Regions from separate parts of the Homo sapiens genome. Here region 2 is linked to region 1. Evidence: fine-mapped expression QTL. A gene starts in region 1. The other region holds a variant in brackets. All regions are shown on one strand. Distances are from middle to middle.

The links. PIP is the estimated chance that this variant, and not a neighbour inherited with it, causes the effect.
Region 2: its variant is fine-mapped to the expression of COPA in whole blood (TOPMed, PIP above 0.99).

The regions. Positions count from the first base shown.
Region 1 is chr1:160,336,845-160,352,658 of GRCh38, reverse strand. It overlaps COPA (coat protein complex I subunit alpha), which reads left to right and starts at 9,409. Exons shown (of 33, transcript NM_004371.4): 1 at 9,409-9,528; 2 at 12,365-12,478; 3 at 12,677-12,750. The coding sequence starts at 9,489. NCSTN (nicastrin) reads right to left here and starts at 9,276. Exons shown (of 17, transcript NM_015331.3): 1 at 9,178-9,276; 2 at 7,833-7,937; 3 at 3,537-3,660; 4 at 2,989-3,110; 5 at 2,409-2,554; 6 at 1,287-1,437; 7 at 854-963; 8 at 453-605. The coding sequence starts at 9,262. RefSeq lists enhancers at 5,792-5,841, 9,207-9,256, 8,529-9,476.
Region 2 is chr1:160,228,618-160,244,431 of GRCh38, reverse strand. DCAF8 (DDB1 and CUL4 associated factor 8) reads left to right here. Exons shown (of 14, transcript NM_015726.4): 3 at 398-472; 4 at 4,062-4,735; 5 at 5,685-5,825; 6 at 7,203-7,297; 7 at 13,025-13,135. The coding sequence starts at 424. Among named protein-coding and RNA genes, the nearest start is that of DCAF8-DT, 25 kb to the left of the region's middle. The variant T/C (reference allele first, on the strand shown) is at 7,984.

The DNA of each region.
Region 1 (15,814 bases):
AGCCTTAGTAAAGGTCTAAGATGAACATCAGCTATTATGTGTCTGATTCTTAACGGTCCCCCACCTCCAGTGACTCAGCCACAGATGCTGTTCCCTTATTCTGCTGTGGTCCTAGTGATGAGAGTCAGGAGCCTAACGGCTCCTGGATGGAGATAGCAGTAAAGGAGTCCAGAGAATAAAAGTAAAAGGCCGCCTCCAATATATCTTATCAGTGGGGGAAAGAGGGGGCTGGTTACATACCAATTCAGGGTGTAAAAGCTTCCTAAAAAGAAGGAATCTAAGCTTCCTAAAATGGAGGAATCTAAAGGGGAGACACATGTAGACACATCCAGAAGCTCTGTGCTGGTTAACAACTTAGGTCAAGTGCTGAGGTCTTCTCCAACCAGTAGCCACTCTCATCTTTACTATCCTCTTTCTTCCCTGCCATTGCACCCCAGCCAAAGAGCCCTTACCCCTTGAAAGAAGACAAACATGACATTGCGGGGCAGGGTGGTCACATCAGGTGCCTTTTGCAAAGCTTCAGCAGCAGCCAGCTGGGTGACAAAGGAAGCCACTGCGCTTTCAGCCCCTGGGGCCACATTCCAGAAAAAGGAACGACTATCCAGCTAGGTACAACAGAAGAAAAGTCAGGGGATATATACTTTAAAACTGGCCCCAAACCTCCTTTCTTGCTCCAGTCAAGAGAATATACCTGTCCTGTGGCAATGGAGACAACCCAGGAGTCCCACAGCCCAGATTCCTCCCCATTTGAGGCTTCCCAATTTAGCAACTTTGAAATCTGATATGCTAGAGCGGGGCCTACCAGCTCTTTTTGTGCCAGCCCTGCCCATCCTGATCAGAAGCCAACACTCACCCGGGTGGCAGCAACCACAACCCTGTCGTCAGGCTTTAATGTCCCAGTTGTATTTATAGGCTTTAGCATGCTCCACACATTGTAATCAGACAGGGGGTCACAGACGATTTCTAAGCAGGACACAAACAATGAGAGATCAACAAGGCTAAAGGAGAAGGTAGCTATAAAGGCAACATTGGAAATCTCTGACCAGTGCCCCACGGACTCTAAGTCGTTTTCTCTACTTCCAACAGTCCGAGGTTGGCTTCTCTGCCACTATCCACTTTAGGAACAAGCTGCCTAAATTTTTCAGAATTGTTTCTAGTTCTCCCATGCAGAGCTCCTTCATGGTGTCTACTCCTTCCCTATTACAGTCTCTCTAACATTCCCTGGCCTGGTTCCACTCTCCCTCTGCCCCTTATTCCATTACCCTCATGGTTCGGATCTGCCCTACCTGGGTTGATGCTGAAGGTGCTTTGGATGGAGCTGCGCCGCATGCAGGTGGCAGTGCTGATGACAGCATGCATGTGTGAAAAGAGCTGCATGGCACATAGTGGGAAGGTTGGTGCTGAGCCATTCTGACTCAGGTTGTGATCTTGATAGCACTGAAAGGGGAGATGGACCCCACTGAGACAGCTAGTTTGTGGAGGCCCTCCCTTACATCCCAGAAGGAGGAGGGCCCAGTTCCATCCTTTTGGGATGGAGCCACACCCTTTTCGGAGACATTTATCCCTGAGCTATAGTTATCCTAGAACCACCATAGGATCTATAAGGTCAAAGAAAAAAACTCATCAAGAGTTACAAAGGGTTGCAGACTCAGTGGTTTAGCTGGAGATGAAACTATCCCATTCCAGATGGCCTGGCCCAATTTGAAGCTTCAGCCACTGAAAAGATTCAGTGTGGTCTGATACAAAGAGCACCAAACTAGAGATAGGAAATCAGATATGACACAGCTTGGAGATCAACTCACCATACAACTTTGGACAAATCTCTTAACTACTCTATGAGTCAAAATGGAAATACTAGACCAGAATTAAGGCATATTAGAGCTAAAAAGAAGCTCAGAAATTACCAAATTGAATTTCTCAATCTCTAATCCAATGCTTTTTTTTTTAACGATACTAGTGGTTCTTAACCTGGGCTGTGTACCTTGTTTCATATTACTCTTTCAGATATTCTTTATATTTTCTTCTAGTCTAAAAGGCTTTAATGCTGTAATATCAGGTAGGAGCAAAATGTGGGGAAAGAATGTGAGAAGAACTAACGTCTTGGTTCTTTTTGGAGCAACCGTCTTTCAGCAGGTGTACCAGAAGAATGAGCCACCCTCCAAATAGGAGAGCCTATAAAATAATCCTTTTTTTTTTTTTTTTTTTGTGACACAGGGCCTTGCTCTGTCACCCAGGCTGGAGTGCAATGGTGCCATCTCAGCTCACTGAAACCTCTGCCTCCCGGCCTCAAGTGATCCTCCTGTCTCAGCCTCCCGGGTGGCTGGGACTACGTGCACACACCACCACACCTGGCTAGAAAAATAATCTTCTTTCTAACTGGAATTGCTAGGAGCTGGCAGTGTCATTACCTGCTTGATGACTTTGGTTTCATTTTCATCTTCAAGAAGAAAGATGGGGAAACTAAAGTCTTCATAAGCCAAACCATTGCCCAGCGAATTCCACTGTATTTCTCTGCAGTGAGCAAACTCTGGCCCATAGGAATTGGAGTAAACACCTGAAGGGAAGGATGGGGAATAGGGGGACTGGTTACTGGGACACCAAGTACTTAGGAACCAGGTGACGGCAGAAGAATCTTTCAGTTGGGACTAAGAGTTCAAAAGGAGGTGGTGACTCAAAGAAGTAGGCATGAAGTCTATTACCATCCACACTAAAATAGAAAGACAATGGTATCAGGGAGTCTTAGGCTGTAAGATTAGGGATGTGAACACGTGACAAAAAGAGATAATGCCAGGTAAGGCAAAGGAAGGGGAAGCAGGAGAGGGAAGGGATGAGCAGCAAAGACAAATAAACACTACCCCCTGTTTGGGAGTCAGTTACTGACACTACACACAGACACAAACACATATACATCCCTCACAAAGACGTAAGACCGAAGCAACAGTGAGCCTTAGGTGACAGTAGGCTCTCCTGATCCTTTGGGACACTTACCAAACCCATCATTTGGGCACTGTACACTAGGAGAGAAGCCTGAGGCAGGACTGGGCTTGGTCAAGGACACTGCAAGACCAGCAATTCGGCTGGTTCTCCCTTTCAGCTTCTCCATTAAATCCCTGGAATAGGAAAGGAATTCCATGAAGGAACACAGGAAGGTATCAGACAGCCTGACATTCTGCCTGCAGGATGGAAACAAATGGGGAACTAGGGGAATCAAACTGTTGACTTATTTCTTCCCTTTCAGTCTCTAAATTCTGAGTCTGGACAATGATCTGCTCTAAAAAGTAGAGCTTTAGTGAGTAAGGACCCCAGGGAGGGAGGGGAGGGATGCCCAGGGTTACTCAGGGACAGGTAGGTGAAATTTAGCCCTAAGCTCAAGATCATTTCTTTTGATGGTACACCTTTCCTTCTGAGGACCACCCTGCCCTCTCCCCTGACCAGACCAGGGCAGCCAAGGGAAGTTTTCACTAATAAGTGTGAGGACTGTTCACTGAAACTTTCCCTCTATGGATGTTTTCCCAGCAGATACATCTAGTTCTTACCTGGTAAAATGCTTGCTCTCCAGCAGAACCATGTAAGGGGGGTTGGGGCCATCAGTCAATACCCACTGTAGGTCCTCCTCTTTCTCTACTACGTGGATAACCCCTGTGTCTCCACTAATTGAAGCTGCCAGGACAGAATGAGTCAAATTAAAGCTCCCATAGTTAACAATTCTGACTTTGCCTCACTGATTCTGCGTATCTTTTATCCCCTAAAGATGTCACAACATATTTGGGTGAATACAGGCACCTCTAGATTTGAACTGAAAAGCTGTTGCCCCAGCTCCATCTGAAGGTTATCAGGAGGGAATGGAATATAAAAGAGCACAAGAGGACTCATTATATGCCAGAAAGGTTCTGTGAACTTCATTTTTTTGCCCTCTGCCCTCAACCTTATTTAGCCATATACATAAGATTCTACAACAATAGACACCAAAGTTTTCAAACCTATATTTTCTCTAGGAAATGCCACTAAATCTCTAGCTCAGGGTTTTAGCTTTGAATCTTCCTTTGTAAAAACACATGCATACATGCCCTTGGCCTCAGGAGCTTTCCTGGATCGTCATTCCTTTTGCCCTTTTTGGGAATGACTTTACTTGCTTCTGGCCGGTTTTAGATGAGGTTAGTCAAGAACTCTGAGGTTTCTAAAACAGAGCTTCCCAATTGATAAGCCTCGAATGGATCAGAGATGTGCTCTCATTGGTTCTCCTCATTCCAGGAAACCTAGGGTTTCCAAAGTCACCTCCAGCCAGGAGCCTACTTATCATTTACCCCAGGATGCCCTGAAAATATCACCCATTTCTCTATGTGCCAGGATGCTATACAAATAACATTTTCTATGTGTCTCATGACATGATAAAGATTGGGAAGCACTGTATTAGAGGATGGATGACCCAGAGTCCAGAATACTTTGAATTCTACATAATTCAAGGCATTAGGTAATACTCCTTAAGTCCCCAGTGATCTGTGTGGAGATATCCTAGGGTCTCCCTGTGAGTCTTCTCCCTACAGAAAATTGGATATGTTATTCATCAATTATTTTAGACCAGTAGTTCTCAGCCCTGGCTGTATATCAGCATCACTTTAAATGCCCACTCAGCCTCCCAAAGTGCTAGGGTTACAGGAGTGAGCCACCATGCCCGGCCCTTGCCACAGCATTTAAAACATGGGAAAAGGAACAGATAGTGTGGCAACTAAAACATATATAACTTCGGCCGGGCACAGTGGCTCATGCCTGTAATCCCAGTACTTTGGGAGGCCGAAGTGGGTGGGTGGATCACTTGAGGTCAGGAGTTTGAGACCAGCCTGGCCAACATGGCGAAACCCCATCTCTACTAAAAATACAAAAATTAGCCAAGTGTGATGGTGCACACCTGTAATGCTAGCTACTCAGAAGGCTGAGGCAGGAGAATTGCTTGAACCTGGGAGGCGGAGGCTGCAGTGAGCTGAGATTGTGCCACAGCACTCCAGCCTGGGTGACATAGTGAGACTCTGACACACACACACACACACCCCAAAACTTCAACTCCAGCGAGGACAGGAAGACAAACTATGATACTGGACTGAAAAAAACCTGGATTCTAATCTGGGTTCCAACTAGTAATGGTGTAGTCTTAAGTAACTTGCTTATTTTCTCTGCGCCTTCAATGAGGTTTTCTACCTCTATTCATCTCATACTGTGGGGACAGACGAAAGAAGGAAGAAAGGATAGAAGGAGGGAGGGAGGGAAAAGAAACCTATTTAAAGCCCCCTTTGAGAACTTTAAAGCGTCTAAGAGAAGCAGAGTATTATAATCAGAAATCAAATCTGGGTATCACTTTTTTCTCCTTAGTTTTATCATGTTAGCTACACTAATTAAAAAGGGCGGAGCCTGCTCAGAAAAGACAGATATGACGAAGTAAGATTTGGAAATAAGTAGGTTGAAAAGGAACCAAGATCTTAATGAGGAAGTGGCCACAGTCCCGCTTACCCCCTCTTGTTTCTCTGTACTGGCACGTGGCTTTACCTCTAGAGGCTTTGCTTCCTACAGAGCTGTTTTAAGAACATAGAGTAGAATGACTTATTCCCAAAGGAGTTTTCTTAGAGCCTAGTTACAAGAGGTTGGGGTCCTGGCCTTCTGTACTTTATAGTGAGGTTCCAGCAAGACCAGCAGTCTGATCTCAGCCCACCCTGGACCTAGCTCTCTTCTACCTACAAACCAGTTCAGAAACTAAGTCCAGAGGGCTGGGCATGGTGGCTCATGCCTGTAATCCCAGCACTTTGGGAGGCCAAGGCGGGCAGATCACGAGGTCAGGGGTTCGAGACCAGCCTGGCCAACATGGTGAAGCCCCGCCTCTACTAAAGATACAAAAAATTAGCTGGGCACGGTGGCACGCGCCTGTAATCCCAGCTATTCAAGAAGCTGAGACAGGAGAATTGCTTTAACCTGGGAGGAGGAAGTTGCAGTGAGCTGAGATTGTGCCATTGCACTCCAGCCTGGGCGAGAGGGCGAGACTGCATCTCAAAAAAAAAAAAAAGAAACTAAGTACAACAAAAACTTTATTTGGGGCTGTTTGGAACCAGTCAACCTACTCCCAGTGCTTTGTATAGCAGGGACATGGGACAATTAACAGATACTATAGCTCAGGGAAAGATGGCTAAAAAAGTAGTAACTGCTTCCACGAACAAGTCCTTCACTTCTCAGTGTCCCAGTTTTCTCTTATCAAATGGGAAGAAGGCTTCAGGAAATTATACAGCACTTTTGAGACCACCCTATTTACCTAGCGTCATCAATAAACAACTATTAAGAGGTATTTGACTTTCAGCTTTATGCAAGTACTCCAACCATTATTCCAGGGGTAAACTGAAATTCAGAGGTGATCAATTTGATGATGAAGAAGCCAGTATCAGACCCCAAGTTTCCTGCTTATCTGCAAAACTACATTCTGACAGAGCTATTGTCCATGGGAAACAAAATCTGAAGACAGCAGGTTAGCCTTTAGATTACTACTTTTCCTGCCCTATGATTTTGATAGTTTTTAAAGCCACAGTGTCATGGAACCTTCTTTTGGAACACACAAAGTGTGAAAATAAACGGCCTGTCAGTTGAATTTAAGGAAAAAAAGTTTTAAAAAAGGATAAATAGAATGCTTCACTAATTCCTCTTGCAATTATTCAGCATTTTCTTTTTTTTTTTTTTTTTTTTTTTCAGACAGTGTCTCACTCTGTCACCTATACTGGAGTATGGTGGCACAATCTCAGCTCACTGCAACCTCCGCCTCCTGGGCTCAAGGGATTCTTCTGCTTCCGCCTCCCGAGAAGCTAGGACTACAGGCATGCCATAGCAGCCAGCCGGCTAATTTTTGTATTTTTAGTAGAGATGGGGGGGTTTCACCATGCTGGCAGATTGGTCTCAAACTCCTGACCTCAAGTGATCCACCCGCCTTGACCTCCTGAAGTGCTGGGATTACAGGCATGTGCCACTGCGCCCAGCCTATTTGGCATTTTCAGTGCCTTCTCTTCAGATAGTTCATTGCCTTTAGCCCATTTTGGTTCCAAAAAGTTCAGAGTGCAAGTGATAACTGGACACCATAGAATATGAGACTTTTTTCTCCTTAAAAAACAGTATAATAGGGTGGTTAAGAGTGCTGGCTCGGCTGGGTGCGGTGGCTCACGCCTGTAATCCCAGCATTTTGGGAGGCCAAGGTGGGTGGATCACTTGAGGTCAAGAGTTCGAGACCAGCCTGGCCAACATGGTGAAACACCATCTCTACTAAAAATACAAAAATTAGCTGGGCATGGTGGCAGGTGCATGTAATCCCAGCTACTCAAGAGGCTGAGGCAGGAGAATCACTTGAACCTAGAAGGCAGAGGTCACCGTGAGCCGAGATCGTGCCATTGCACTCCAGCCTGGGGGACAAGAGTGAAACTCCGTGTCAAAAAAAAAAGGTCTCTCAGCTTAGTGCTCGGGCCACCAGATCCTGGCATCATCACTTATTACCAGTATGATCTTGGGAAAGTTACTCAACTTCTTTAAGTTTTAGTTTCATCATTTATAAAGTGACAATAACAGTAAGACCTATTTTGTGGGGTTGTGGTTGGGGTTGTATGAGATGCACATGTAAAAAGCTTGGTATGCAGCATTTACTAAATGTTAGTTCTTATTAATTATCTTGCCTAGCTTGACAGACGGTTATCTGTAACTGCCTACATACAGTCCAATATAAGTGTCAAATCTCCTAAGCAGGACATGGATGTTACTTAGTATCTAGGGCACAGACAAATATCAATGTCCACAAACATGAATCCATCTCAACTCACACTGGCAGCCAATCTGATGAGTGGCGTTGAGCAGGCGAACACAGGGAGCTGTTTTATTTAAGGGGATATATATCTTCCTCTCCACTGAGTTTCCCCTGCACAAACCTGATCGGAAGATAAAAAGTGTTAGAAAAATTTGAGAGACACAGGTACTAGCTTCTATCGTGTCATTAACCTGAAGTATGGCTTGGGTAAATCATTTAATATCATACTTTCTAAAATGAGATTAAAGTCCATTCTTCTGATTTCTTGGGCACACACTTATCGTAACAGATACATGTTCTACATGGCACCCAGCTATGTGCCTCAAAGGGTTATTACAAAGTCCATGTAGCGCCATTGACAGTGACACTAAAAGAGAGAAAACTTGGTCAAAGGAAAGGTGTTTGACCTTAGATTTGCCAGATTCTGGTTGCACAGGTGATCACACTTCTGCTTGTATATCCTGTATGTATATTACTAATTGGTTAATACACAGGTGCTGGGCTAAGAAAACTTTCTGAGGCATTTTTCCAAGAGTGTGAACAGAATTGAGAGAAACCTTATGACATACACGGGTCAGTTAATTTAACATCAGCAGGTCATTTGTGTGCCCACAGTGTGGGGCAGCTGTAGTTTCTCCTTTGAGGATCCTTAAAAACAATGTGAATTGGGGGAAGGCACAGTCATAGTTATATACAGGCATTTGCATTTTAGGGCTTGACCAACTAAAAAGCCATGTATCAGTAAATGAACGCGTATCAGCAAACACTTAAGTACATTATAAATGCCAAAAGTTCCTTGAATTGTTACTTCAGGGTCTTCACAGTTAAGAGTACCCATATCCTACCTTATTCTTGCTTTACTGATTAAAAAAAAAAAAAAAAAAAAAACCTGAGGCAAGGCAGGGGGACACAGACTTAGGATGTAATCAACAGAGGAAGAAATAAGAAATCCACCTTTTAAGCGCCGCACAGCACCCACAGAACAAGATTGCTTTCGTCTCAAAAAGTCTAAACGCGAGGAAGAAAGCTAACTTTCACACCTGTTCCTTTCGACTGTGGGGTGGGTGGCTGGGGTTGTGGGAAAAACGAGACATCTGGACAAAGTGGGAGAGGGTCAGGCTCGAAGTCCAGGAAGAGGCCTAGAGAAGGGAGTGAAGCGACACGACGTGCTGCGGGGGAGAAGGGACCTTCAGGTCCAGGCAAAGGGGGAACTTCTGTCGTGGGAACGAAAAAGAAAGAGGATTTACAGGGTGGGGGGACAGAGGGGCAGCAGGAACCAGAAGGGAGACAGTGGCGGTCGCGGCGGGGCCGATCCGAGAGTTCCCCTTAGAGAACGGAGCTCACGGGCGGGGAGGCCTCACCTGCTAGTAGGACGCAGAAAGACAGAAGGCGAAGGAGACCCCGACTTCCCGGGTCAGCCCCAGAGCCACCCCCTGCCGTAGCCATCTTGCCTCTCTGCTGAGCGGAAGCCCCCGTTCGGCTCCTGTCTGTTAGCGGCCTCTCTAGGCTACCACTGACACCGTCTCTGTGGCCCGGAGCCTAAGAGACCGGAAGTTCGTGTTTCCAGGCGCTTCCGGAAACCGCGGGAGAGGGTCGCTGACGTGGAGGCGTCCGAAGGGCAGCAGGGTGTGTCGGGGCTCGGATTAAGACATCGGAGTCGGAGACCTGAGAGATGTTAACCAAATTCGAGACCAAGAGCGCGCGGGTCAAAGGTAGTGGAGAATAAAAGGGGGAACATGGAGGTTGGATGTCAGGAGCGGCGCTGACACCGGGGAAGAGAAAATGGGTAGAGGTGTTGGTCGAAATGGGCCCACCAGACGGACCCGGAGGAAGACGGAGGGTGGGAGAGAGGTTGGGCCTGGCTAGCGGTTCTCCAGTCCCCTCTTCTTTGGTGTGTCCTTGGGCTTCGATTTACCTATAAAGTGGCTCCCACACTGCAGGGGATTCCTTAGACCCCCTCCCTATTCTTTCTTCCCCCTTTCTCTCTTGGCTGTGCTCCCGATTTGTGTTGTTCTGCTCCAAAGGCCCTGTGATCTGTTGGCTTTTTGATGACTGTGTTATATGGAGTGGCCCTGGGAACTGAGTCTCGATCTCTGTTACTCGCACCCGAGTCAGTAGCCTTTTTGGAGACGAGTAGTGGCAACCTCACTTAAGGAGGCCTTGGCTGCAGCATCTCAACATCAGTGCCTCCATTCGGCTTTATTTACTACCCGGAAATAGTACTTGAGGCTTATAACCCCAATAAAGTCTCAACTTGATAGAGTTGCCAGATAAAATGCAGGATACCCAGTTAAATTTGAATTTCAGGTAAACAATGAATAGTTTTTTAGTCTGTCGTTGCTTACCAGAAGTTCAAATTTATCTGGAAATCTCGTATTTTTATTTGCTAAGTACGGCAGCTCTAGAGCTCGAGTGTGGGTCGTTGGGGGTGGAGGGCAAATACTGAGATCGCAGTATTAGCCTCAGAACGTTAGAATGTGAAAGTCAGAGAAGTAAGGTCTCCGAAGACCTGGAAAAAATAGTATCTAGAATATTTAGTGAGATGCAGCGTAACAAAGTGGTTAGGAACTTGGTCTTTGAAGTCAGATGGGCTTGCCTTGGAATCCTGAGACATCCACTAACAAGCTGTGACTTGGATGACTTACTTAATGTCTCTAAGTCTGTATTTCCTCATCTGTAAAATCGTCTTTTATAGAGAGTATTAAAATGAGAAAGTATATGGAGTGTATTTATTACAGCGCCTGGTGTAGACTCAGTAGCTCAAAAACTGGAGGTTGTTATCAATGTGTGAATATATTCTGAGCAGTTTCTAAGTCTCTTGGGAAACTTGACCTTGAAAGATGGGTACCATTAAGAATTTCTGAGACCTGTATAGGTGAAATGTGAAATGGGTCTTCATAATCTTTCAGTTTTCTTTTCTGCTCCTAATTTCTTGCTGGGCAGTACAGAAGGAAAAACAAAGATGTCATAATATTTGAGGGCAAACATCCATTGTTGAGTGTACTTATATATCATAATTAAAAAAAAGAACCTAATGGAAAAATAGACAATTTAGAAGAAAAATTGTAAATGTTCAATAAATAATTAAAATAGTTCCACCTCACTAGTAATGAAAGAAATGCAAGAAAAAAAAAGTTAAGTTACTTTTTTGGGGGGAGGGTCTTAGATTTATAAAACAAAACAACAAATAGCTGATAGCAGCCTGTGTGCAAAATGGGCACCTCCATAAACTTCATGAGACTGTATATTGATACAGTGTTTTTACATTTAAACTATATGTACTAAAATGTTAAGTGCACATATTCTATTCCTGAGCAATCTCACAGGTCTTTAGCCTAGGGCAGTAATAATGCAAATAGGCTAGATTATGTGTAGAAGTATCTTCAGTAGGCTCTTCTGATAGCCAAAAATTGGCGGACAAAATGCCTGTTAGAATAATATAAGTGTAGTACATTTGTCCCTTGTAGTTAAAAAGAATGAGGTTATGTTTATATGTACTTCCATGAGATCCATATTATATAGTTAAGTGAGGAAGAAGTTTGCAGAACAACATCATAACGTGATCCCCACTTTCATAAAATACTAAAGCCTATGTCTATGTGTAACTGCATTAAAAATCTGAAAGGATACACTTCAAACTGTTAGTAGTTGTTACCTCTGGGGACTTCCATTTCCAGTCATGATAGAATAACAAGAGCCAGATTTACCTTCCCACCTTAACTATACAACTGAACAAAATGTATGAAACAAAGGTTCATACATTGCTCACAGATGTTGGGCAACAGGCAGTGCAGGAAAATAATTCTCCAGAGAAGGCAAATAAACAAGGTGAGTCCTGTGATTGTCGTAGATTACTGCCTAGAGAGTTTTTAGGCTTCAGTGAAGAGGGGAATCCCTTGGTCTTTCTGAGGAGACATAAATTTAGAGTGTGGGGAAGCAAAGATGGCTAGATTTTGTTGGGCAAAATACCGGAGAAGAGGGGGCTGCAGAGAGAGAGCACTAGAGATCTGCAGGATGTCTTCTCAGGTCTTTGTTTGAGTACTGATCTGCATGTGAGAAAACTATTCAAAACCTGAAAAAGGACCACTGGAAAGGAGAAGGCAGAGCAATCCCCAGAGTTCACACTAGTGAACTGGGACTAGTTTGTGTTCCTACTTGCCAGAAAGGAAAGACTTCCTAATATTACAGGGCTTCAAATAGAGACCTCAGATGGCTATTGCTTTAATAGTGGTTCCAGATTAAGCCTAGAATGAAGGCTGCTGTAGCCCCTCTGTAATAAAACCTAAAAGCAAGCCTTGAAAGGATCAACTGATTCCAAGTAACTTAATTGTATCCTAGAGCAAAGCCCAAGAATATGTAAAGGAATATGACAAAAATCTAGTACCAAACATAAAATTCACGATGTCTGGCATCCAGTAAAAAATCATCAAGCATGTCGAATGAATGAACCTAGGATTAACCTTGATGTTTCTTTTTCTTATCAGAATTGACAGAAGGTGACATCATGGGGCTTAGTTAGCTCATTGTATCATTTTCTATTTTTTTCAGGGCTCAGCTTTCACCCCAAAAGACCTTGGATCCTGACTAGTTTACATAATGGGGTCATCCAGTTATGGGACTATCGGATGTGCACTCTCATTGACAAGTTTGATGAACATGATGGTGAGATATTTCTAGGAGGAAGTTAAAGGAGTATAAGTATTTATAATATCCTGGGGTATTTTAAGCCTTGTTTGACATGGATTCCTCTATGATTAAAGAATGTGGAAATGATAGAACTGAAAAATCCTGAATAGGAATCACCTTAGAGATTAGAAAGGATAGCTCTGTCTAACATACATTGCCTGCCTTCTCCACCAGGTCCAGTGCGAGGCATTGACTTCCATAAGCAGCAGCCACTGTTCGTCTCTGGAGGAGATGACTATAAGATTAAGGTACAGAGGGTCTGTCATAACTGAGAATAAAGGAAAGAGGATGTGGGAAGGTTTGGGAATCATGAAAGGAACTGAAAGACAGGAAATTTCATTCATACAGAGCTCAGGCCTTTGACAACATTATCCGGAGAACTTACTCAGCAAACATTTATTGAATGCTTACTGTGTACCAGACACTGTTTTCTTTTTAGGGAATTCAAAAATAAATAAGAAATGGCTTCTGTTTTCAAGGAGCTTTTATTCTAATACAGAAGATAAACATATATCCAAGTAATAGCATGTACAGTTTGGTAAGCAATATAATAGAGAGATATTCACAGTGAAATAGGAAAGAGCAGTATAGGTGCAAAGACAAAAAGCATGACACAGCTAGATACAGGGCAGCTGTTATTGGTTTTGTATGGAGAAAACCTGGAGAAATGGTGAGAGAAGGGGCAGAAGATGAGAGGGGCCAGATCATGGAGTACCTGTTTGTGGCGCTCAGGAGTTTAGATGTTATCATGCAGATAACTAGGAGCCATTTGAGGAACTTAAATACAGGAGTGATACCAGATTTATATGTTTTTAAAATGATTACTTGGTGGTAATTAAAGAAAAGATTGGATGATTTGGGCAAGACAGGAGGCAAAAATACCAGTTAGGAAACCTGAGCTTAGGTAGTAGCATTTGAAATGGAGAGAAGGAGATGGATGTGAGAATTTAAGGAAATGAATCAGTGTGTCTGTTGGGTGATGGCCAATAAGGAGAAATAAATGAGATGGCCAATAAGGAGAAATAAGGGCCAATAAGGAGAAATAAATGAGCTGACTTTCAGGCTTCTAGTTTAGGTCACTGGGTAAAGGGGGTGTCATTAACTAGGAAAGGAAAATCAGGAGGAGATAGTTTTCTGGAGTGGAAGAGAATGGATAATGAATTCCATCTTGTCTCTGGTGATTTTGAGGGACCTAAGGGACAGTCTAGTTGAGGTGTCTGTGCTAGAAATATATTTGTGATTTGTCGTCATGAAGGGAGGAGCCAAAGGAGAAGCAGTAGAAGATATTGCTCAAGGAGTACGTTGAATAAGAAGACAGACCATCATTTAAGGGAGAGAGAGGAAGTAGAGTTAGTATGGGAAACAGTGATTCGAGGGGTTCGAGATGAACCAAGAGGGAGAAGAAGCCTCTTGGATGCCAAGGAAGAAGAGAATTTTGGGAAGGAGAAAGTGTTCAGAATAAGATCAAGATTGAGAAATAACCTTTGAATTGCTTAATTTGGAAGGCCTTAGTGTGAAATGAGGAAGCAGACAGAATATAGGCAATTCTTTAAAGACAACTGACTATCATAATAGCAAAAGTTAGAGCCAGAGACTAGCAACCTATAAAAATAAATCAAAATTTCCTCTGTTTACTTCCTTTAGTTGTTTTCATTAAGTCTATGTGTCAAACCGAACCAGTGAAATTTAATTCATAAAAAGGTAAAGTCTTTTCATAAGCAACTTCAAGAAGTTATATATTGTGATTATACCGCAGAACTTAGGTGATGGGAGTAAAGAGTGACAGCTGCCTACAGAGAAAAGAGCTATTAGAATTATAGGAAGGACATTTCTTTCTGTTTTCTAGTTTTTAGGCACCACATCCTGGGGCAATCAAAACTCAAACCACCTGACAGATCTCAAAAGCCCATAAGGATATCACCTCATTATAGTATTTTTGTATTTGTTATTTATAGTGATGAACATTGAGTATCAAGAATGGTTAACTTGGGATTCTTATAATCTGTTTAAAAAGGAAAAACTGGGTGTTAATTAAGAAAAAGTTTTCCCAAAATGACTAATATTTTGGAAAAGAAATTATCTTCCACTTATGAAATGTCCAGAATAGGTAAATCTATAGAGACAGAAAGTAGGTTAGTGATTGTCTAGGGTTGGAGGGGTTGGGAGGAAATGAGAAGTGACAGCTAATGGGTATGAATTTCTTAGGGGAGTGAATAAAAATGTTCTAAAATGGATGGTTGCACAACTGTGAATATATTAAAAGCCATTGAGTTTTATACTTTATATGAATAAATTGTATGGTATTTGAACTGTATCTCAATAAAGCTGTTATTAAAACAAAGGAATTCTTTATTAGCTGGTAGGTGTGTAGTGCTATCATTTGGTGGGTTTTTTTGGTTTGTTTTTTGTTTGTTTGTTTGTTTGTTTGTTTGTTTTTTGCGATGGAGTCTTGTTCTGTTGCCCAGGCTGGAGTGCAGTGGCGTGATCTCGGCTCACTGCAGCCTCCACCTCCCGGGTTCAAGTGGTTCTCCTGCCTCAGCCTCCCGAGTAGCTGGAATTACAGGCATGCGCCACCAAGCCCGGCTAATTTTGTATTTTTAGTAGAGATGGGGTTTCTCCATGTTGGTCAGGCTGGTCTTGAACTCCCGACCTCGGGTCGTCTTCCTGCCTCGGCCTCCCAAAGTGCTGGGATTACAGGCGTGAGCCACCGCACCCGGCCCATTCGGTGGTTTTAATTAATTTCTCTGATGACTAATAAACTTGAACATTTTTCCATAAAAAGGGGGATTATCTAGAAAAGTCATGTCTGTGGACCATCTTATTGCTTGCTATATCCAGATAAATGTAGCATTAGTTATAATCCTCGTTGACAAAGAGTAAGACAAGGAGCCCAGCAAATGGTCAGAGTATTCATCTAAAACCCCTATAAGTTTTTAAGGATTTACAGTTTTGGAGCTTGACTTAGGCCATTAAAGGAGTCAAGACATTTTGAAACTAGAAATATGAAAGTTTAAAACACTGAACTCTATAAGGGGAAAAAAGTCAGTTAAAGAATAGTGTTTATGGTATGGTCTAATTTTTATGTGAAACTCTACTGTGTACATGTGTATTTATATGTAGCTGATTGAATAGATAGAGGCAAAGGTATTGGAATACCTTAACTTTTCATGTTATTCTTATTTCCATACATAATGCTTACTGAGCACTTACCTAATGTCAGGCACTGTGTTAGGTGGTAAGGGTATAGTGTTGAGCATGATGGACAAGAACCCTGCCTTTAAGGAACTCAGCATTCTTGTTTGGAAGATCATA
Region 2 (15,814 bases), 110 kb after region 1:
GATTCTTGCCTAGGGGGCAATGCTGAAGTTAGCTTTATGTATTGAGTTGAGACTCTTGGCTTGCAGTACCTGTCATTTGATATGTGCCTCCTGTTCCAGGTTTTATTTTAGTTCCCACTTTCGCATCTGAAAAATCACTGCCAGTTACTCAGTGAGTGAAGTAAAGAGATGGCACTTGACCTCCCCAAAAATATATCATTATATGGATTTTAAACATAGGGAAGAAAACATAAGGAAGAAAAAATTTCACAAGCTGAGAAGACCTGTTAAGCATGCATACACAAATCATTTTTATAAAAATGATAAAACCTGTACATTGTTAAATCTCCTTGTCCCTATTGTCTTCTTTCCCAGGTGGTTTCCTAATTGTTTTGGTTTCTTCCTCTCCCAAACCCAGGCTGGCTACAGCAAACATCATTCAAGATGTCCAGCAAAGGGAGCAGCACAGATGGCAGAACAGACTTAGCTAATGGTAAGGGGCCAAAATGAAGGTGAAGCTATTTTTACTATCAACTGAGGTTGTCCTCCTCCCTGCAAGATAGAGTGGAGGCCTGGATTTTAGTGGAGAGAGGGAAACTTTCCTGTGTTGTTCTGAGTTTAGGAAACTACACAGGAAACACCTTGGACTATATTATGCTTTTGCTTCTTCTGATTTTATCTGATCATTTTCAAAATATCAATAACAGAGCTGTACTTCTAAGAGGTCAAGTGGTTTGGAGTTCTATAAAGCTATAAGGATGGGCAGAACCTAGGAAATGCTGTTAGTAAAGGAGAAAAATAAAATCTAATGGCTAGTAGGAACAAGGGAATTTTAGGGAAGATGAGCTTCCCAGTTATATTGAGAGGTCCCTTTCCACAGTAAGTAGTAGTTTGATAGAGAGATTACATGGCTGGGCATGGTGGCTCATGCCTATAATCTCAGCACTTTGGGAGGCTGAGACAGGCAGATCGCTTGAGCCCAGGAGCTTGAGACCAGCCTGGGCAACATAGCGAGACCCCGTCTTTTTAAAAAAAAAAAAAAAAAAGGTGATTACATAAGGGATGAAGTTACAACCCAACTAGGAGTGGGACATCTTTCCCCTCCTTATTTCCTTTCCTTACTTCCCCTCCCTTCTTTCCATTTATTTCCTTCCTTCCTTCCTTTCCCTCCTCCTTCTTTTCAGGACCAGTGCTGCCAAGTGTCAAATCACTGGCTTTAGGGCAGATTTGAAGGCAGAATATAAAAATTCTAATAGAGTATAACTACCACCTGGGTTATTTAACCAGCTCTTCACCTCTGAGCCAACTTTTAAATTAGAGAAGCCGCCTTTAAATGGATATAGTTGGGCAGCACAGAGTCCAGCATTCCTTAGCACCTTGAAGGTCAGGATAACAGGCTAAATTCTAGTTGATGTGATTGGAGGAAGGATAAGTGAGATTTTCAACATGCTTTTTTATTGCTCCATATGTTCTTATCACTGCCATTCATTCATCTTTTGTAAAGGAAAGTGGTTCATATTTTTCACTGGGTTTAGTTGAAAGGCACAGGGTTCTAGAGGAGTTAAAGTATACTATTGATTTGGAGCTTGACCATTAGCTAGGTCAAGGATTGGCAAACTATAAATTGCAGGCCAAATCCAGCCTGCCACTTGTTTTTGTAAAGTTTTATTGGAATACAGTCATGCCTGTTCGTTTATGTAGTGTCTATGAGTTGCTTTTGTTCTACATACTGGAGTTGAGTAGTTGTGGTGGAGCTCCGTATGGTCTGCAAAGCCTAAGGTTTTTACTATCTGGCCCTTTACAGAAAAAATTTGCAAACCCCTACTCTAGATCTTGGTGATTTACTGTTGGGGACTTCTTGATGAGCTTGTGATACCCTCTGGCCCTTATGTTAATGTGGTAAGGCCTCCAAAATTGTCTATATTTGTTACTCATAATTTTAACAATAAACACTAGATGTTTTGGTGTTTTATTTTTTCTTTTCTACAGACCTGTTAGGTTGGTGTTTCAGTCCCTGCTCACCACTCCCAAGCTCAAGCCCAGCTGCATTTCAAAAAACTGTAACTGCTAAACTTTCGTAGCATATATAACAGGCTCAGCAAATGTGGTCCTTGGGTTCAAATTTCTGTACTTCATAACTTTTTCTTCCAGCCCCTAGCCCAGTTGTTTTATACTGTGCTCTTAGTTGAGGCTTTTTTTTTTTTTTTTGAGACAGAGTTTTGCTCTTGTTACCAAGCTGGAGTACGGTGGCACAATCTCGGCTCACTGCAGCCTCCACCTCCCAGGTTCAAGCGATTCTTCTGCCTCAGCCTCCCAAGTAGCTGGGATTACAGGCACATGCCACCACGCCCGGCTAATTTTTTGTATTTCTAGTAGAAATGGGGGTTTCACCATGTTAGCCGGGCTGGTCTTGAACTCCTGACCTTAGGTGATCCACCCGCCTTGGCCTCCCAAAGCGCTGGGATTACAGGTGTTAGCCACCGCGCCCAGCCTGCAAGAACTGTTTATGTCTTCTGGGCTTCTGTTACTGCTTGAATCAAAGCACTTGTATTGTTGATCTTTTTTCAGTATTGGGTTTTGCTTAAGAGTACATTGCTTCAGAGCTCTTCACAAATTACTGCTCTAATCCACATGACTAGGCAATAAGGTGCTCCACCTTTGAATCCTTAAACATCAGTGTGGTATTGGAGTTGAATAGCTCATACTGGATGGTCTGCCTTTCCTGACAGCTTTTACTTCTGGCGGATAAAATTTATAGCCATCTGAGGAAAGGAGGCCCATGAGCAGCATTTAAAATCTTTATTCTCCCCTTTTTTCTTCACACCTTGACTTAGGTTGGAAGTTGTGGTTGTATTGGCTTTAGAACATTCCTCAAGTTCTCATTGGAATTGACTTGACTGTTGTGAGTTAAGAGAATGCAGTATGTAGTTATAGGAGATAAGATCGATAAAAGTGACCTAGTTATTTAACTATCAGCATAGCAGACCTAGAATATACTGAACTTTCGTCTTAGGCACCACTATAGTAGCCCAGCTTTTTATCAATTTTATATATGCTTCCTAATAAAACTGTCTCAATAGAGAGACTAAAAATGTGTGACTAAGAATTATATTAAAAAATTCAAACTAATGGAAGTAAGTCAAAATATATTTACTAGCAAAAGGTGAGCAAGAACCCACTCAAATGATCACAATTCCCACTTACCCCTTCAGCTTGCTTTCTTAGTGAATTTTAGAAACTTAGGTGGGGAAGAAGCTTAGGATTTAGGTGACAGAAGGTGTAGTGGTACTTTCTTTTTTTTGAGATGGAGTCTCGCTTTGTCGCCCAGGCTAGAGTGCAGTGGTGCGACTTTGGCTCACTGCAAGCTCTGCCTCCTGGGTTCATGCCATTCTACTGCCTCATCCTCCTGAGTAGCTGGGACTACAGGCGCCCGGCTAATTTTTTGTATTTTTAGTAGAGACGGGGTTTCACCATGTTAGCCAGGATGGTCTCGATCTCCTAACCTCGTGATCCACGTGCCTCGGCCTCCCAAAGTGCTGGGATTACAGGCGTGAGCCACCGTGCCTGGCCTGATACTTTCTTAAAGTAGGAAATGGTGCAACACCACATCCATAAGTCAAGAGTGATTTTTATCAGCTGGTTTCCGTCTTTCGCTAAGAAGATGGCTATGCTAGCTCTTGCTGGAGTTGGCTCTTCTTTTTATATTCTGTTTAATTATTTGCTATAACTTAATAAATGCCCATCCAATACAACAGAGCCAATGGTAGATGTATCAGGCACACTTTTATACAATATGCCAATGTTTTGCCTCTTGAGAACTTAATATAATCTTAGATTGTCCTGAGATTCTTTGCTTTTGTTGAAGTATTTTATGTGTGTGGATTTGATCTTAATCTTTTCAATTTCTTGTCCTTTACAAGATTTCCCCTCAGAGGGTACTCTCTGTAATTATTTGTAATGAAAACACTTGGACCAAAGTTCATTTTTTGGTCTTTTGATGTGAAGATTTCTTAGACTAAGGTGGTCACTATCCTGTTTTCTTATTTTTCCCTCTCCTCTACTCCTTCCTCACTAACATGCAGGAAGCCTGTCTAGCAGTCCAGAGGAGATGTCTGGAGCTGAAGAGGGGAGGGAGACATCCTCAGGCATTGAAGTGGAGGCCTCAGACCTGAGTTTGAGCTTGACTGGGGATGATGGTGGCCCCAACCGCACCAGCACAGAAAGTCGAGGCACAGACACAGAGAGCTCAGGTGAAGATAAGGACTCTGACAGCATGGAGGACACTGGTCATTACTCCATTAATGATGAAAATCGAGTCCATGACCGCTCAGAGGAAGAGGAAGAGGAGGAAGAAGAGGAGGAAGAAGAGCAGCCTCGGCGCCGTGTACAGCGCAAGCGGGCTAACCGTGACCAGGACTCATCAGATGATGAGCGGGCCCTAGAGGACTGGGTGTCCTCAGAAACATCAGCTCTACCCCGACCTCGCTGGCAAGCCCTCCCTGCCCTTCGGGAGCGGGAGCTGGGTTCAAGTGCCCGCTTTGTCTATGAGGCCTGTGGGGCAAGAGTCTTTGTGCAGCGTTTCCGCCTGCAGCATGGGCTTGAGGGCCATACTGGTTGTGTCAATACCCTGCACTTTAACCAGCGCGGCACCTGGCTGGCCAGTGGCAGCGATGACCTGAAGGTGGTGGTGTGGGATTGGGTACGGCGGCAGCCAGTACTGGACTTTGAGAGTGGCCACAAAAGTAATGTGTTCCAGGTGAGGCAAGGGAGCATAATAGCAACTGAGAGAATCAGGCATGAGTTAGAGAAATCTGAACTGCAGCATGGATTGGGAGCTGATAGTGAGTTATTGTAGGAATTACATATCGGGACATGGCCCTACTTTGGCTCCCCTAATGACCTAAATACACTGAAAGACTCTTGGCAACCCTAGATTCCTTGAGCATGTGGACTGTTGGAAGCCTCATAGGTAGGGTGCATGCAGCTTATTAAATGTGTGCTGGTAGGAGGCAGTGTAGTATAAGCACAGGCTCTTGAACCAAACTGCCTGAGTTCAAATCCTAGCCCTTCTGCTTACTAGCTCAGTGATCTTGGCCAAGTTATTTTACCTTTGTCTTCAGTTTATCTGTAAAATGGGACTAATAACACATAGGGTTATGAGGATTAAGTAACAATAGAAGCTAAGCAGTTAGAACTGTGACTGGTACTTAATAAACATTTGATAAATGTTAGCTTATACTGTTGTTATTCTGGAAAGATTTTACTCCTTGGCCCCATCTACTGTACTGGTACCAGCCATTTATCCTAAGGGTGTTCTCTTTTCTTCCCTGACATTCCCCCTATTTTCCTTTTTCTTTGTAGCAAATTTATATTTACTTTCTTAATCAAAGTAGATTTTTCCTCCTCTATTCCTTTTCTCCTCTGCTAGATACAGTCCTAGTTCATCTGAGCTCTTATCATGTGCCAGTTCAATCTTCCAGAGCCAACTGAAATGCTCTCTTACATCAAAGGAAGTTTTTTCTCTCCCTTTCCTTTAACTCCTGGAAGAAATTGGGCTTAGCCAGCTGTACAAGAGTAGGAAAGCTAAGTTTCCAGCTGTCATGTAAGAAAAGGGGGTAAGTTGAGGTCATCATCGTATTTTTTATTCTCAAGTTTACCTCTCTCATTTCTTTTGTGTGTCCTTTTTTTCATTTTTAACACCCCAGGCCAAGTTTCTTCCTAACAGTGGTGATTCTACTCTGGCCATGTGTGCCCGTGACGGGCAGGTTCGAGTAGCAGAACTGTCTGCCACACAGTGTTGCAAGAATACAAAACGTGTGGCCCAGCACAAGGGAGCGTCCCACAAGGTAAGTAAGACCTTGCTCCAAAATTTGTGCAATCCAAATCCTCTGTGGTTCTCAGCCAAGGTTCTCCCTTATCTCTGCCCATTGTGTCACATTTGTTGTGGTCATGTGCCTCACCTCTTTCAGTCCTAAGATTTGTGGTTAAGAAAGGAGCAAAAGCAGCCACCCTAAACTCCTAGGAAGGCAAGTATCTGAAAAGTCCCTAGATCATGCATTCATAGTATTTGGCCCCTAAGCTAAGCCCTAGTTGGTTTGGAGATCTTTGAGGTCTCCTGTGCCCTCTAAACCTTTTACATTTATTGTGATTTTTTAGGGTATTTTGACAGTTTCAAGGTGCTAGTGGTTTATTCCTCTTGTGTGAGAGCTTCAGCTTACCTGCTCAAACTCTCAGTTCACAAATAGCACTGTTTCTGGAAGCCCTATTTAAAGCTGGGAATATAGGCCAAATAATCCATGGTGGCAGCTAACAAGGAGTTAAGAGCTGCCAGTTTTAAGGTAGGCATGGTGTTGGTCTTTTGTGCCATGAAAAGAGGTTGGTACTCTCTTAGAAACCCTAAGCAAAAATATAGGTGGACCTGGAGTATCCTTTTCTAGCCAAGGCGGCCCAGGATATGTGAAAATTACCTATTTCTTTGATTCTTAAGTCTACTCCTAACCCACTAGTTAACTGATTTTCAGTTGTAAGGAACTAAGATGTAAGGAATGAAGTTGGACACCATTTCTCTCTGCACTTAAGGGTATGGAATTGATTTTATTCGAGAATGAACTGTTGCTGGGTGTGGTGGCTTATGCCTGTAATCCCAATACTTTGGGAGGCTGAGGTGGGAGGACTGCTTGAGGCCAGCAGTTAAAGACCAGCCTGGGCAATATAGCAAGACCCCATCTGTGGAAAACAAACAAAAAAAAAGCGAAAAAATTAGCCAGGTATAGTGCCTTGTGCCTCTAGTCCCAGCTACTTGGGCAGCTGAGGTGGGAGGATCACTTAAGCCCACAAGGTTGAGGCTTTAGTGAGCCATGATCATGCCACTGCACTTCAGCCTGGGTGGTAAAGTGAGACCCTGACTGGAAAAAAAAGAAAATGAACTCTAATGGCTGATGTTTTTCTTTGCTATCTGTTCATATCTCTTGAGGACTTAGTTGAAATAGCAAATCAACTGTCCTTTGACTAGTTATAGAATAAACAAAACTATAAATAATTCGCATAGAACAAGAGTAAGTGGGCTTAGATTATGTCCTTTCCTGGGATTTTATGACAAAAAGGTAGACATTTCTCTTTTTGGAACATTTTAAGTGCAGCCCTTCCCAAAGTTATAGGAATGAACTAGATGACCTCTAATTCTAATATTTAGAAACCTCATGTTTTTCCTTTTTCTTCTTCAGTTGGCACTGGAACCAGACTCTCCCTGTACGTTCTTATCTGCAGGTGAAGATGCAGTTGTTTTCACCATTGACCTGAGACAAGACCGCCCAGCGTCGTAAGTGTAGCAGTAATATCATTACAGAACTGTATCTCTTAGCCTTGAACATATTCCATATGTCTTGGTAATGCCTAACTCTGGTTCATCCGAATAGTACCTTTGTGCCTATGGTTAAGAGGTAGTTTAAGGTTAAGGGGAATTCCTTACTTCCTCTCTTTCTCAGTAGTGAAATACTATTCAGTCTACCTTCATTTCTCAAACAGTTTACTTGTTATATGTGGCCTTTAATAATTTGATGATCTTTTGCTCTTTATTCACTTGGATATCATTCATCTTACCCACAGAAAGCACATTCTTCCACAGACTCATGTAGAGGTACAGTCCTGTAAATTTTAAATTTAAATACATTTTTAATTTAGTTATTTATAGAAACATACAAACATAAAATTTGAACAAAAATACTGGTAGCTGTAGTTGAGTTCTGTTTTATCACAGTTCATTTGTATGTGAATCTGAGACTCATAGGTAAATTTTATTCCTTTTTAACTGTGTGGTATCATAGAAAAAACACAACATCTTGTTTGGATCCAGGCAGACCTAGGTCAAATCTCAAATCAGGCACTACTAGTTATGACTTACATAACCTTCTGAACCTCATTTTCTTCAGCCTTGCTATGGGCATATTTTTTTCCCTCCCTCCGTCCTTCCCTCTCTAGTAGTTTCTGTGAGGATATATATATATA[T/C]ACACACACACACACATACACACACACATATATACACACACATATACACATGTACACATATATACACACACATATATGTTTATATACACACATATGTACACACATATACACACATATGTATTTATATACACACACGTATATATGTATGTATATATATACGTACGTGTATGTATGTGTGTGTGTGTTTGTGTGTGATGCCTCAGCATAATGTTTAACACCATGGCTGAAATTGATTAAGTTTTAGCTTATAATTATAATTATTTTAGTTTCTTTTTTCATTTTTATTGCTCTTACAATAAACAAATACTTCTTGTTTAAGAGATTCAAGTAATAAAGTATACAGACAAAATGTAAATGCTCCCTCAGTCACCCCCGCCCCACCATTTTTTTAGCTGTTGAAAACCATTGTGGGCAGGGCACGGTGGCTCACGCCTGTAATCCCAGCACTTTGGGAGGCCAAGGCAGGTGGATCACTTGAGGTCAGGAGTTTGAGACCAGCCTAGCCAACATGGCAAAACCTCACCTCTACTAAAAATACAAAAATTAGCTGGACATGTTGGCATGTGCCTGTAACCCTAGCTACTCAGGAGGCTGAGGCAGGAGAATCGCTTGAACCTGGGAGGTGGAGGTTGCAGTGAGCTGAGATCATGCCACTGCACTCCATCCTGAGTGACGGAGCAAAACTCCATCTCAGAAAAAAAAAAAAAATCATTGTAAGTAATTTTGAACACCTTTTTAGTCCCTTTTGTATACATTTTGTACCTAAATACATATATACACTTTCTCCTTTCTCCCCATAAGTATACTTGTATGTATATATAAACATATATGTATGTTTCTGCAGTTTGCTTATTTCATGTTACAATGTGGGAGATTTTTCTGTGTTGGACCATAAAAGCTACCTTGTTGTTAACCATGAGAGAAATGTCATAGCATTGGTGTACCACAGTTTATTTAACCTTTACCTTATTGATAGATATCTAGATCGTTTATTGTCTTGTTTGTCTTAAAGATTATTATAACAAATCTTGGTCAGGTGCAGTGGCTCATGCCTGTAACCCCAGCACTTTGTGGATCACTTGAGGTCAGGAGTTCGAGACCAGCCTGGCTAACATGGTGAAACCTCGTCTCTACTGAAAATACAAAAATTAGCCGTGTGTGGTGGCACATGCCTATAATCCCAGCTACTCAGGAGGCTGAGACAGGAGAATCGCTTGAGCCCAGGAGGTGGAGGTTGCAGTGAGCTGAGATCATGCCACTGTACTCCAGCCTGGGTGACACAGCAAGACTGTCTCAAAAAAAAAAACCAAAATTATTATAACAGATCTTATAGGTCAGTACCAGTATTGAGTAAGGGATGGCAATGATTTACATAGGACATAAGTAAAATATAAATTAATTTATATTGGGGAATATAACATGAAGGCTGATTATTACTAGACTTATTTTTGGAGAGCTAAGTCCAGAAAAAGCTGTTTGGATAGTAGAAGAATTTCTACAACTGCTTAAAAGATAGAAATGTTTTAGGCTTGGGGAAAAGATATGTTGCTTGTTTATATAACCTTCAAGAGGACAAAGACTGGGAGATTTATAGTGGAAATGGAACAAGCCTAAATGACAAGGGTTCTGCCTTCTAGTACTAGCTTTGTAGTTATCTGACTTTGAGGAAATCATTTAATCTTTTGAACTACATGATGTTTGTTATTTCCAGTTCTAAAGTTCCAGGGTTCTGTAATGGTAATGGAAGATTAGCAAGTTTTTCATAGGGAAGAGCAAAAAAGGAAAAAATGATAGTAAGTTTATTTAATATGCTGTGTTAAAGAGTTGTGAAACAGAGTGAGATCTTATCCTGTGGATCAGGTTCAGAGGGAAACTACTGTTAGGCCACCAGGAATTGAATCTGGTGCAAGTAATGAATAGAGCGAATGACTTTGGCAGATTATTGAATTTAGAATGAAATTATATAGGCAGAAAGTCTGGCTGAGAGTTAACCATGAATCTGAACATAAGCAATGATAGGTGGGATAGACTCTAAAGAGGGGTAAAGGAGAAAATGAAGAGTAGAAGGAGGCCCAAATCTAGATTTGAGTAATAAAGACAGTGAGTCTTTAAAGTTTTTGTTGTAAGGGTTAAAGTAGTGTTACAGGCTGGCATGGGGTGAAAAGCTGAACATCTGCTTATGTCAGAGGCATTTTTTTTTTTTTTTGAGGTGCAGTCTCACTCTTTTGCTCAGGCTGGAGTACAGTGGCATGATCTTGTCAGAGGCATTTTTGTGTGAAGTTGGCATAAGGGGGATTTTCTTTTGTATATATGATGATAGCCAAGTCTCTGAAAGCTAATGAAATTGACTAACATCTTAGGAAAAAAGTTTGATTTGAACCTGTGGATGGAATATTCCTTTAGCCAGTGGAAGCCAGTTTGAGGTATTCTTCAAAGAAATCCTTTGGTCTCATCTGTAATTATTTTTCCCTTTTTGCTGGGACATACTTGCTCATTAATTTTAAGGCAAAATTTGGTGAATTTGTTTAATGTTTCCTCTAATGTGAACATTTTTTCCTCCTATTGCCATGATAATCATTTTTATAGCACCTCTGCATGCCCCCTGCAGAGTTCAAGGTACTCTGCATTTACCCATCAGGAGGGAGAAATGTTTGTTTTATGGGATTAAGTTGAGGCATAGTAAGATTGAGCTCTTCAGCAGGATTACATAACTGTGGAGCCAGTACTTCATAATCTATTCCTTAGTTTCTTCATTTTGCTTCCACATGGTAACTTTTGTATTTGTTTGACCTTGTCCTTCTGAAATTTCAAATTGCTAAGGAAATGAGATGGTCCTGTGGGAAGGAGCAGCATCAGCTCCTCCTCTCTTTCCCTGTCTAAAACTCATATTAGAGCAGTCTCTTAGCTAGTTTTGTCCCTGAAGCTGTTATTCTTTTGACATGTTTCCTGCCTTGTGTTTTTGAGATGTGTGGGGGACACCATTAGGGGATGGAGGTTTCCCCTAATGACATTCATTTTCAGTGCCCTCTGTATTTTTTTTGTTTGTTTTTAATTTTAAAATAAATAGAGATGGGAGCTCACTATGTTGCCTAGGCTGGTCTTGAACTCCTGGATTCAAACGATCCTCCCACCTCAGTCTCCCAAAGTGCTGGGATTATAGGCATGAGCCACTACACCTGGTCCTCTGTATTCATTTAATGAAAAGCTGCAGAGATACTAAGTAAAATCTCAACACTTTGCCTAGAACAGTTCTAGGCTGAAGTGACTTTGGCTATGCAGAAAGGATGCTAAAATCATTTCTTTACAAAGAAACTTGTTGTCATGGTTATATTTCTTTCTGTTTCCATAGCATCAGAAATAAATAAAACCTTAGACTTAAAAACAAAAACTAAAGCCAAGCCTCTTCCTATAGTTTCTTGAAGTCTTTCCTTTGCTGTAAATTTACCAATCTTCATTATGTCATATTTGACTAATTGAATGCTTAGATCTGAGAAGAATATTCCTCATGCCACCCTTAACCTGGAACAAATTATGGCTGTTTTAGACAGATTATTCTGGATTTCTTCAGTGAAAAATTTATCAGTTTTCAGTGTGCATATTTTAAGCTGGGTTTTTTATTTTTTTACTTTTTGAGACAGGGTCTCACTCTGTCACCTAAGCAGAAGTACAGTGGCAAGACCACGGCTCACTGCAGCCTCAACTTTCTGGACTCAAGGAATCCTCACACCTCAGCCTCCTGAGCAGCTGGGACTATAGGTGCATGCCACCACACTGGCTAATTTTTTATAACAATTTTTTTTTTTTTTTTGAGACAGAGTCTCCCTCTGCCACCCAGGCTGGAGTGCAGTGGCACGATCTTGGTCCACTGGAACCTCTGCCTTCTGGATTCAAGCAGTTCTTCTGCCTCAGCCTCCCAAGTAGCTGGGATTACAGGTGCATACCAGCACGCCCGGCTAATTTTTTTATTTTTGGTAGAGACGGGGTTTCACCGTGTTGTCCAGGCTGATCTTGAACTCCTGACCTCATGATCCACCCACCTCGGCTTCCCAAAGTGCTGGGATTACAGGCGTGAGCCACCGCACCCGGCTTTTTATAATAATTTTTTATAGAGATGGGGTCTTGCTATGTTGCCCAGGGTGATCTTGAGCTCCTAGCCTCAAGTGTTCCTCCCAAAGTGCTGGGATTATAGGCATGAGCCAGTGCCTGGCTTAAGTTGGGTTTTAAGTGACTTTTTTTTTTTTGAGACAGTCTTGCTCTGTTGCGCAGGCTGGAGTACCGTGGCATGATCTCTGCTCACTGCAGCCTCTACCTACCAGGCTCAAGTGATTCTCTTCCCTCAGCCTCCTTAGTAGCTGGGATTGTCCTGAGTAGCTGGGATGATAGGCATGCGCCACCACGCCTGGCTAATTTTTGTATTTTCAGTAGAGATGGGGTCTCGCCATGTTGGCCAGGCTGGTCTCAAATTCCTGGCCTCAAGTGACCCACCCGCCTCAGTCTCCCAAAGTGTAGGGATTACAGGCATGAGCCACCATACCTGGCCATAAGTTACATTTTAATGGAATCTGAGCAATAGTCTCTGACCTTAAGGTCTTTTTTAGCCTACTGTTTCTGGGATTCTTCTTCCACGTCTCTCCTTGTTCCCAGGTGATAGGGAAGATATATTTATAAATAAAGGGTAGGAAGGTATCTGTAGTATTGTCTGATTAATAACTGGCTGTTACTGTGTTGGACTGCAGCTAAACTGAGGCTTCCTAAAGAATGGTACATTCATATACCTTTAGTTTATACTTCTTAAGGAACACTAGAAAGTGACTTCACTACATATTTTTTTCCCCAATCCCCAAAGTCCCATATAATAAATGTATGTGCTTTTTTCCTGTTGTTACGTACAAAACAAACAGAGAAAACACAACAATTCTTTCTTTCCAAATGAGAATCTCTTTGGTTTCTTATTAGCCATGTGACTCTCTTGGCTCTCCTTTGCCATGACCATTTGGATCTTTTGGAGTATATAACTTTCTGTGCTTTTCTACTCTTAAAGGAAACTGGTGGTGACAAAAGAGAAAGAGAAGAAAGTGGGGCTGTATACGATCTATGTGAATCCTGCCAATACCCACCAGTTTGCAGTGGGTGGACGAGATCAGTTTGTAAGGTGAGTTTGTGGCTCTTTTGTGTCTTTGACAGTTTGTAAGACTGATGCATTGTATACTACCAGGTGCTCCTTTATGGAGAGTTACGAATTTTATAGGAATCCATTAACTATTATCTTGAATTTTTTACCGTTTTCCAAAAATCTTACACGCCTTTGGAGATGTTCTGTTCTCTAATGTAACAGTCTCTGAGGGGTGACTTTACATATTTTAGAGATTATCAAGTTTTAAAGAAGTTAGATGATGGTCAGGTGTAGTGGCTCACACCTGTAATCTCGACACTTTGGGAGGTGAGGCGGGTGGATCACCTAAGGACAGGAGTTTGGGACCAGCCTGGCCAACATGGCAAAACTCTGTCTCTAAAAAAAAAAATACAAAAATTAGCCAGGCATGGTGGTACATGCGTGTAGTCCCAGCTGCTCAAGAGGCTGAGGCAGGAGGATCACTTGAGCTCAGGAGTCAGAGGTTGCAATGAGCCAAGATTGTGCCACTGCACTCCAGCCTGAATGACAGAGCGAGACTCTGTCTCAAAAAAGAAAAGAAAAGAAGTTAGATGAATTGACCAAGGTCCTCACGTGGCAGCTAAGCCATAAATTTAGGTTTACCAGCAAGTACTATATTAGTAAATAATCTACCTTTTTCGTATGTAAATAAACGTGCACTAGAAATTTTAAATACTGGTTTTCAATTCAGAAATAGTTTGACTTGGGAGCACTTAGTGTGAACTGAGGGTTTTTTGGCTCTCACTGTCCTGAGCTACCACTTTTTTTTATCCATAGTGATATCTTTGTTACCGTGAACACCTTTTGTTAACACTGGCTCTTGAGACATGACCTAAGGAAAACAGACACTGTGGATTCAGTCTCCATATGTATTAGTTAATTTCCTCTGACCCTTAGTAATAAGCTGTATCCATCCCTATCCAGTTGGCCTATTTTAACTATGTTTCTTTGGGCTCATCAGTTTGAAAGGAGAGAGAGGGGCAAGATCACTAGAAAAATGAGTGACTTTTTGCTTTCCTAATGGTAAGTGAAAAGCATCATCTTCCTTTTGAAATGAGAGCACATTTTATAGCTATATTTCCAGATTCATTTTATTAATAAGAATCATGGGGAATAGGGTAAATTTTTAGAAAATACATGAGATGACTTTGCCTTGTTCAAGAATCCTGGACAAAACCTTGTTTCTCTCTTCTTCCCCTATTCCCATGCCTTCAAAATTCGTTTCCTCTAGTCACCAACAGTCCTTAAATGTGTAGCCATAGATTTTTTTTTTTAGACAGAGTTTTACTCTTATTACCCATGCTGGAGTGCAGTGACACAATCTTGGCTCACTGCAACCTCCGCTTCCCGGGTTCAAGCGATTCTCCTGCCTCAGCCTCCCGAGTAGCTGGGATTACAGGTGCACGCCACCACGCCTGGCTAATTTTTTGTATTTTCAGTAGAACCGAGGTCTCACCGTGTTAGCCAGGCTAGTCTCGAACTCCTGACCTCAGGTGATCTGCCCGCCTTGGCCTCCCAAAGTGCTGGGATTGCAGGCATGAGCCACTGTGCCTGGCCAATTTTTTTTATTTTTAAATAAGAAGCTGTTGATCAAAAAGGGTTGTAGTTTGTATAGATTTTCAGTTGCTACCTCCTCCAAGTTGAGCATTCACTGAAATTTTGAGTTGAGAGTTCCTACTTAGAGCTCCAGATTACTTGAAAAGTCTGTGTCTCTAACAAATTCCACCACTAGGACCAAGATGTTTGGAGGGGAATGTAGTAGTTTGCTGTATTGAGAACTGTATTCATATGTATGTATGTATTCATATGTATTCATATGATATGTATATCATATTGCCTTAACCCAAAGCTGATACTTTCCCAGGGTTAGAGTAAGGCTTAGAGTTTTAGCATTTCAACACAAGGAGAAATACTCAAATCTTCTGTGTCTTATCAGCCTCAATATTCCTCTATTGGCTATTTACTGGGCAGAAGTTATGTGAAGATTTTTGTTTTTTTTTTGAGACAGAGTCTCACTTTGTTGCCCAGGCTGGAGTGTAGTGGCTCGATCTCGGCTCACTGCAACCTCTGCCTCCTGGGTTCAAGTGATTCTCATGCCTCAGCCTCCCAAGTAGCTGGGATTACAGGCATGTGCCACTTTGCCTGGCTATTTTTGTATTTTTAGTAGAGATACGGTTTTGCCATGTTGGCCAGGCTGGTCTCGAACTGTCTTCAAGTGATCCACCCACCTCGGCCTCTCAAAGTGCTGGGATTACAGTCGTGAGCCACCGCGCCTGGCTATGTGAAGATTTTGAGGCACGCTGATCCTACACAAGCAGGTAGCCCTTTCAGCACTCCAGCTCTTCTCTGACATTAGGTTACACTCAACTTCTCTGGCACCTCTCCTGTGCAGCCAACTGAATGTTTTGAGGTTTCTCCTTTCTTATTCTTCCTTTGAAAGAACCCAAACAGCTCATCTTCTGGTATAAATTTGAAAACATTTTTGCTGAATATTATATATCATAACATCATTAACTTTCACTCCTAGCCTAAAGGAATTACTTCAAGGGAATATAGAGAAATAGCTTACTGATCCTCAAGGCTTTTGCATCATTAATACTGAATTTTAGTTTAGGGTTATTAAAAAGTATTTAAGGGAAGCTCTGGGGAGACATGCTTTTTGGCCTGTGGCCAAAAAAA